2 linked regions of the Homo sapiens genome follow. The protein of the gene in region 2 interacts with the protein of the main gene of each other region in a biochemical or structural test. Each region holds a gene or a part of one and is shown on either strand. Other genes may lie near its edges. The genes, in order: HDAC10 and PAX3.

What was found.
Region 1: the proteins of PAX3 (region 2) and HDAC10 form a complex in vitro, tested with the Homo sapiens proteins (one study listed by BioGRID).

The regions. Positions count from the first base shown.
Region 1 is NC_000022.11:50,248,466-50,253,068, reverse strand, and holds the start of HDAC10 (polyamine deacetylase HDAC10), read left to right. Parts: upstream 1-1,803; 5' UTR 1,804-2,036; coding exon 2,037-2,095; intron 2,096-2,163; coding exon 2,164-2,298; intron 2,299-2,545; coding exon 2,546-2,642; intron 2,643-2,908; coding exon 2,909-3,006; intron 3,007-3,104; coding exon 3,105-3,209; intron 3,210-3,365; coding exon 3,366-3,434; intron 3,435-3,614; coding exon 3,615-3,741; intron 3,742-3,900; coding exon 3,901-3,966; intron 3,967-4,178; coding exon 4,179-4,238; intron 4,239-4,317; coding exon 4,318-4,407; intron 4,408-4,596; coding exon 4,597-4,603. UniProt on the Homo sapiens protein: Polyamine deacetylase (PDAC), which acts preferentially on N(8)-acetylspermidine, and also on acetylcadaverine and acetylputrescine.
Region 2 is NC_000002.12:222,222,479-222,226,284, forward strand, and holds part of PAX3 (paired box protein Pax-3), read right to left. Parts: intron 2,943-3,806; exon of another isoform or gene 1-2,942. UniProt on the Homo sapiens protein: Transcription factor that may regulate cell proliferation, migration and apoptosis. Involved in neural development and myogenesis. Transcriptional activator of MITF, acting synergistically with SOX10.

The sequences.
Region 1 (4,603 bases), on a different chromosome or scaffold from region 2:
CTGGGCCATGCAGAGGAAGGACAGAGGGTGGGCGCAGGGCACCAACTCAGGGACATCCCCTCTCCTGGGCGACGTCAGTGGACCTTCCTGCACCCCCAGCCTGGAATGTAAATCAGCTGTGTGGTGCCCGCGTGGCTGGAAGGAAATAGACCCTTTTGTAGCTCCCTGTTCTGGCTGTGCGTCCTCATGCCGGGTCCCACCTTAAGACCTCCGGGCCCTTGGCCTGCATGTAGAGGAGGCTGGCCTGATAGCTCAGACCCTTAGAGCCAGGAGGGGGGCCTGAGCATCCCATCTCTCCCAGGCCACAAAGCTGGTGCCCACTTCCCCCAGGCCTGTGCCAGTGATCTTCGAACCCCCACGTTAGGGCTTGGCCCCTCCCCTTTTACGGGGTGACCTGCTAATGGCTTAGACTCTAAGCCACTGTGTGTGGATCCTGAAGCCAGACCCAGGGGCAGGGCCTGATGGGGAGGAGTGTTAGGATCTACCCTAGCTCTCTGCATCCTCCAATGCCAGCAGGTCCCTGGGGGGAGGGGGCACGCTGGGCACGTTGAGACCCCTGTGGTGAAGTGGTGAGCGCCAGCCAGTCCCTGGGGGGACGGGGCACATTGGACATGTTGAGACCCCTCTGGCCCCTGTGGTGGATTGGTGAGCGCAGAGGGCTGGGTTTTATTCTTGATCAAACCTCTAGCCCCTACTACCCTGCTCCAGTGGTATCTTCGTGCCCAGGCCGCCCTCTGCAGGCCACTCGGTGTTTCCAAGGGTGGCGGCTGGAACACAGGCCATGGGCACCTCCAAACCTGTCCCAGGGCAGGGGTTACAGCAGAGAGACCAGTGAGGGGCAGGGCAGGGCAGGCCAGGTGTCCTCGGTGGACATGCCCACAGCTGGCCCAGCCAAAGTGGACCTGATGAGCTGCCACGACAGATGGGCCTTCTCTGCCCAGCGACCCTCATGCCTCTCCAGGGCATCCGGGCCTGGGGGACGTGATCGCCATCAGTTCCGGAGCCACGCTGACTTGTGGCATGGCTGCTGTCCACACTGGGCCCAAAGTGTGGGCCCATAGGTGGCCTGAGGACTGGGGGCCCCAAAATTCTGTGACCCAGCTGGATGTGAACTCCCGCGGGGGCAGGGTGTCCCCTGGGCTCCAGGGGGCCTCAGGTTTCCTCTCGGGCATCTTCCTCCGTGGCTGTGCCCGTGCCTCCTATCTTCCTCAGTCCCCCACCATGCTACCGCAACCCCGGTCCAGTGTCCCCACCTCCACCGACCTTGACTCTGCTCTTGGGCCAGGGGTCTTCTTGGAGCTAGAACCGGACTCACTCCCTCCTTAAACCTCGGGGGCGGTGCTGCGCCTCCATGCAGCCACGACCACCGCCCTGAGCCGGCCGCAGCGCCACCTGCCTCCCCGCGGGCTCCTCCCGCCTCGTGGCCTTTGCCCTGCAGACCCCTCGCCCCCCTCGCCTTTCACCCCAGGTCTTCCTGCGCCCGGGCCGGGTGGGCCTTGGGGCTGCGCTGGACCCTGACCCAGCTGGTGCAGAACGGGGCTCTCATGGGCAGGCTCGGCCACGGGCGTTCGGGTGGGGCTGCGGCGACCACTCGCCTAAGGCCGGGGGACCCCGCCCCTCTTGGAGGGGATCGGGGCGGGGCCAATGGGGAGGCGGAGCCGCAGCGCAGCTCCGAGGGCTGGCGGCTCGGGGCGCCGAGGCTTCCGCGCCCGCTGGTTCCTCGCTCCGGGGCGGAGCTCGCGATAGCGACCGGGAGCAGGGCGCGGGGCGGGACCCAGGTCCGAGGCGAGGAAGCCGGAAGCCAGGCGCGGGGAGCCTCCCCCTTCGACTGCAGCCTCGCTCCGTGCCTTCTGCGCGCCTGGGATCCCGGAGCCTGCCTAGGTTCTGTGCGCTCCCGCCCAGGCCGGTGCCCGCCGCCCGCCTGCGCCCCAGGCAGGTCCCAGGCCTCCGGCTGCTCCCGGCCGAAGGTGGGGACAGGCAGTGGCAGGCACCACTAGCGAGGGCGTTTGGGAACCCAGGGTGACCACGGCGCAGCCATGGGGACCGCGCTTGTGTACCATGAGGACATGACGGCCACCCGGCTGCTCTGGGACGAGTAAGTGGGACCTGGCCGAGGTGGGGTGCGGGGAGGGACCTCTGAACTGAGCTCCTCATCTGCCCCAGCCCCGAGTGCGAGATCGAGCGTCCTGAGCGCCTGACCGCAGCCCTGGATCGCCTGCGGCAGCGCGGCCTGGAACAGAGGTGTCTGCGGTTGTCAGCCCGCGAGGCCTCGGAAGAGGAGCTGGGCCTGGTGCACAGGTCAGGACGGGGGCAGGCCCCACGATGGGGGGCGGGGCGGGCAGCCCAGCTAGAAACCTAAGAACCTGGGCCTACCCCGAGCCTGCCAGCCTCGAATACAGAGCCTCTCCCTATGCACCTCGGGTGGGCTCACAGGCTTGAGGAAGTGACAGGGTGGCCACTCCCACCATGAATCCCAGGTCCCCGCCTCCCGCCCCCCTGCTCCTGCTGGTGACCCTGCCTCTCCTGCCTGCCCATCTGCATGCAGCCCAGAGTATGTATCCCTGGTCAGGGAGACCCAGGTCCTAGGCAAGGAGGAGCTGCAGGCGCTGTCCGGACAGTTCGACGCCATCTACTTCCACCCGGTGCGTGTCCCCGGACACACTCACCTGTGCAGACACACATGCACGTGCCTTTGAGCGTTCACAGCCACGGCCGCCAACCCCAGCCAGTGTCCCCTGGTCCATACACATGACATTGCCCTGCACACCTGCCTGCTGGCACTGCCAGAGCCTGGGGCTGGCCTGTTCTGCTCAGCAGCTGGTGTCTTGCAGCCTGGCACAAGTGTGGGTATGGCCTGCAAAGGGCAGCAGGGAAGGCAGGGGGCTCATCTGCGCCCCTGCGCCCACAGAGTACCTTTCACTGCGCGCGGCTGGCCGCAGGGGCTGGACTGCAGCTGGTGGACGCTGTGCTCACTGGAGCTGTGCAAAATGGGCTTGCCCTGGTGAGGTGAGAGCTGCCCCTTCCCCTGGCTGCTCCTCCGTGGGTGGCCCTGTGAGGGGCCAGGGCGACCCTGACGTGACCCAAATCCTACTCTCACGCCGTAGGCCTCCCGGGCACCATGGCCAGAGGGCGGCTGCCAACGGGTTCTGTGTGTTCAACAACGTGGCCATAGCAGCTGCACATGCCAAGCAGAAACACGGGCTACACAGGTGTGTGCCAGGCTGGCTGCAGGGGGGTGGGCCCAGGCCACACAGCAAGGGGCAGCGCAGGAGGCGAGAGAACCCAGCCAGCACCTTCCCATCCCTGGCCGGGCTCCTGGAGGTGGGAGGCCCTGCCCCTTTGCCACCAGCGCTGTCTGTACCCAGGATCCTCGTCGTGGACTGGGATGTGCACCATGGCCAGGGGATCCAGTATCTCTTTGAGGATGACCCCAGGTGAGCAGGGGTGCGGAAACCACCCTTCCCTGCAGCCCCAGTTTTTGGGTGCACAGCCTGGCCTGGGAAAATCCAGGGGTGAGATACAGACATGTGCTCAGGGGTCAGCGTTCTACAGGGAGCTGTAGAGCTGTTGAGGGTCCTGACCTTTGACCTCTGGCCCTGGCTGGCTGTTGGCAGCGTCCTTTACTTCTCCTGGCACCGCTATGAGCATGGGCGCTTCTGGCCTTTCCTGCGAGAGTCAGATGCAGACGCAGTGGGGCGGGGACAGGGCCTCGGCTTCACTGTCAACCTGCCCTGGAACCAGGTGCCCACCCTCAAGCCCCAGGTCCCCACCCAGCCCCCTCCCCCTGGGCCCCTCCCCTCCCCCACAGTTCACCCTCAAGCCCCAGGTCCCCACCCACCCCCTCCCCCGGGCCCCTCCCCTGCCCCACAGTTCAGGATGTAGCCTGGGATGTCCTGCCAGGTTGGGATGGGAAACGCTGACTACGTGGCTGCCTTCCTGCACCTGCTGCTCCCACTGGCCTTTGAGGTGACTGCACGGAGGGCTCCCCCAGGGCAGCCGGGTGGGAGGGGGACCTTGTGCCTGGAGTGCGCCAGTGAAGGCAGGAGGAGGGTTATGAGCTGTCCCACTCCTGTGTGGCTGGGGAAGGTGCTCAGGAGGGGATGGGATGGGCCTGGCTCGCCCTCACCTGGGCTCCAGCCCCTCTCTGTCGACCCTCCCCACTCCGGCCTGGCCTGTAGTTTGACCCTGAGCTGGTGCTGGTCTCGGCAGGATTTGACTCAGCCATCGGGGACCCTGAGGTGAGGGCCTTGCCTTGCCAGGGAGGGCTTCTGGGGTCCTGGGGCCCAGGTCCCCCATCACACATGGCTCTGGTTCCAGGGGCAAATGCAGGCCACGCCAGAGTGCTTCGCCCACCTCACACAGCTGCTGCAGGTGCTGGCCGGCGGCCGGGTCTGTGCCGTGCTGGAGGTGACTGGGGAGGGCACACAGGGAGGGTCTCTGGGCCAGAGGCCTGGGGGTCAGGAGCATGGGAGCCAGGTGCCCACGGGGTATTTGGGAGGGGCGTCCTGCCCGGGATAGAGCCAGGCAGGGGCTCTCCCGGTGACATCCCATCCCAGTGATATCTCTGCCCCAATCATGTCTCCACCCTCCTCCCAGGGCGGCT
Region 2 (3,806 bases):
ACCCAACCTCCGCCTCCCAGGTTCAAGGGATTCTCTTGCCTCAGCCTCCCCAGTAGCTATGATTACAGGCACCCGCCACCATGCCCAGCTAATTTTTGTATTCTTAGTAGAGACGGGGTTTCACCATGTGGGTCTTGAACTCCTAAGCTCAGGTGATCCACCCGCCTCGACCTCCCAAAGTGCTGGGATTACAGGCGTGAGCCACCCATTGAAACTTAATATGGAGGAAAGCACTGTGTTTGGGGTTGGAAGGATATAAAGGGAATCAAGTAGGATCTCTGCACTCTGGTAGTTTGATGCCTTGTCCTCATGGGATTCACAGAGCAGTCAAGGAGACCAAAATAATTGCTCGCTAGAGGTAGAAACTTCACATTTGGAAGCACAGAGAATCAGGAAAACTCTAAAGTGGAAGCAAAAAGTTTCAGCTCATTTTAAAATTTGATTCTAATTTCGACGAGCGATCGCTTGAGATGGAAGTGACATCCATCCTGTCCTACAGGGCAGGCAGATGCAGCTTGTTACAGGAGGCCAGCTTAAGAGAAGATGAGAATTGATTTCCTTACAGAGCAATGTTAACAATTTTGCAACTTAATTGTAATTCTTAAAGTCAGATCATTTAAGAGCGGAGGAAAAGATTTTTCTGGAGAAGAAGCTCAATTTAATAAATCCTTTGCCGAGGGATTTGCTCAAACTTTTGGTACTCACCCAAGCATTTGTCTGAAAAGAGTTTTGTCTTCTCTCGCCATTGTTGCAAGATACTGGTAAGGAAAGCTGTTTGAACTTCCTCAAAACATCAACATTTAATACTCCTTAAGTTTCCAACAGGAAAACGAGGTAAGTTAATATTTTCCCATGTTGATACATAATTGAATTAGAGTTTTACTTAACTTAATAAATTGCCACCTGGGGTAATAGAACCATGAACAGCACTTAATTTCAGGTCTGCATTAACTGTGCTTTCTCACTGCCCCGGTCTGAGTGCCTGTTACCACGGCTCCCAAAGGCATCAGGGTAAGAAAATCATTTTCAAGAAAGTTCTGGGAACAAACTGTGTTAGCTTGGGGAGGCTGAAGGTGGGAAATTAGGGTCATGTTCATGCCTGAGTGCACTGTACCATAACACACACTGTGGTTGTAGTTTATATTATAATACGTCAAGACTAAGGAGGTACTCCCGGCTCAGATCAGGTAGTCCTCTGCAACTATCTAGACCAGCGATGTACAGTGCATCTCCAGCTTTATATTGCTGGGAGGAGAACTGGACTTCCAAAAGTTTTGATGTAACTTCACTCATGAAGATTTACTATGCTCAGTTCCACTGGTGAAACCCTTTATGAAGAACTCAGAAAGGTACGCTTCGGTTTTTGTCAGATTTGTTGGCAATCTCTCTGTGCCACCTGCCTTCTGTAACCTTTAGATAAGTAAACCCAGGAGTGGTGAAGCCTGATCTCTCCATCAATCTCAAGTTACTATTGACTCAAGGTTCATTCTAACTCCACCATAACCCAATTTTTAAAAACAAAAATGTCTTTGCTGAGATAATAAAGAAGAAACATCATGAGTTTCTACAAATACCTTCAAAAGACAGAATCCAAACAGAGTAAGAGTATAAGGGTTTGGGGGTTTGTTTTCATATTTTCTAAAATGATATAAATAGGTAACAAAGACATTGAGTAAACTCACCAGGAGTTGGATTAAAAAGTCCTTATATTTATTATACAGTATCTATTATATCCACAATAAAAAATGAAGAGAAATTGTTGTGAAGCAAATCTTTACTGAAAAACAAACCTTCAGCAAGAGGTTCAAGAGATTCCCAAAGGAAGGAATTTAAATGTTGTTTAAATTTAGGCTAAATAAATCCAGAGGGCTATTCCTAAGAGAACCAGGGCTTAGTGAGGACTGGCCTGCCTGTCTCTGGTCATTTAACCTGATTTTTTATCATCTTACCATTGCCAGCCTTCTGCATTTCCTAGAACCAGCTGAATTTGCCAAAAGAAGTATTAAAGGAAAAACACACTAACTTTGCAAATTAAGAACTGGTCTTTGCCTTCTTTATGTTTTGAAACTCAAAACAGACAAATTTTCTATTTTTAGTAGACTAAAAAGAGTACCCTAGAAATGACCTTTACTTTCAATACCTGAACGAACCAAGCGTAGTGATCCTAGGAGGCTGTTATCAGCCCACATTTAACTGAAATTTTCTTGATACTCCTAAGTCTTAGATAACTCTTTCAATATTGTATCACTAATTCCTAACATACAATCAATGAATAATCTGCAGAATGGCATGTGTGAGTGTATAACACTGAATAAATTCATCTAAAATATACATATTTATAACTTAGTAGTTACACTTTCTAGAAATTTCCCCTTGTTTTGAAAAGAATAGCAGTAGCAACAGAGGCAAACTGGCCTATGACTGATGTTCTAGGAGAGAACAGAAATTTACCACCCAATGTCTTTGCCAGTAGGGTGGAAAGAACAAGATTTACAAAGTTGGCTATACACCTTTAAATGAAATTATATGATCTACAATTCAATGTAATTTTACTATCCCCACACAAGATTACCTGGCCTTCCGCATCACACTTGGCATGTTAAGGAAGTGGGGGCAGGAGGCACAAATTTGTCAGTAACCTACTATACTATTAGACACAGTTAATTGTCTATCATTGCATGTATAATATTACATCAAAAGTCTCCCTCAAAGCAAGTTGTTATTTCATTTGATAAACTGCAGCCCGGTTCATTTTTATCTGCCGCCTGTACTTCCCAACTTGTATGTCTCTCTACTGAGTCCTTCCATAAAGCCATATTTCATGTCTTTGAAAAATGATCTTTACATGCATTTCTCTAGTAGTATAATGTCCAATGATTTTTTGAAACAAAATTTAAATTGGTTGAAAGAGCCCCATAACATCATGATAACTAGGAAAAAAAGATAATAATTAGAAAAGAAATTTTCATACTTTTTATGAGTAAGCAAACCAGTTTGTTCAGACTCTCAACATTACAAGTTGGCGGGTGGCGGGGAAACTAGTACTTTCTACAGTAAAGATACAACAATACATCTTATTCACATGTGTGCAATACAGACCAGGCAAAAGTTGAATCTCAGCTCCTCATTTATATTAATACTTCTGTGACCATGAACAATTTGCTTAATATCTGGGGGTCTCTGTTTTCCCATGTGCTAAACGGGGAATATAAAAACTACTTCACAAGATTGTTGTGACTATTAAAAATGCAATGCAATCTAAGCTTCTAAAAGAATACCAAGGAGATATTAAATGTTCAGTAAATGCTAGCTATTAAATAGAAAGTCTCACACTGACACTTCTATCTGAGAAAACCAAGAATTGAAGCTCTGTTTTGCTTCCTTCACTCTGTGGTGTCCAGCCAAAGCCTTTTGTGTCTGTGAGTAAACAGGAAAGTGCCCAGAAAACACCTCAAATAATTGAAAGCCGGTTTGACTTGAATGGAGGCTTAGGTCAAATTTGCTTCCAAGTTTCATGGATTAGTGCTAATTGTCCCTTGGTGTCAGCCTAATTTTGCCCATCAATAAATTACTGGTTCACATTTTTGGTGGTGTTCTCAAAGGCAATTCAGCCTACATTATTCAAGACGGATTACTTCAAATGCAATTTGAAAAATGGGGAGAGAACATAATAGTTAATCCTTAGAAAGAGAATTCGCAACAAGATTGTAAAACGTTTGGTTAAATACTAGACTCAGGATGTCGAATGCTGACATGCCAAGTACAGTACTTTCCAAGTAGGGAAATTCAGGGCAAGCTGCTCATTT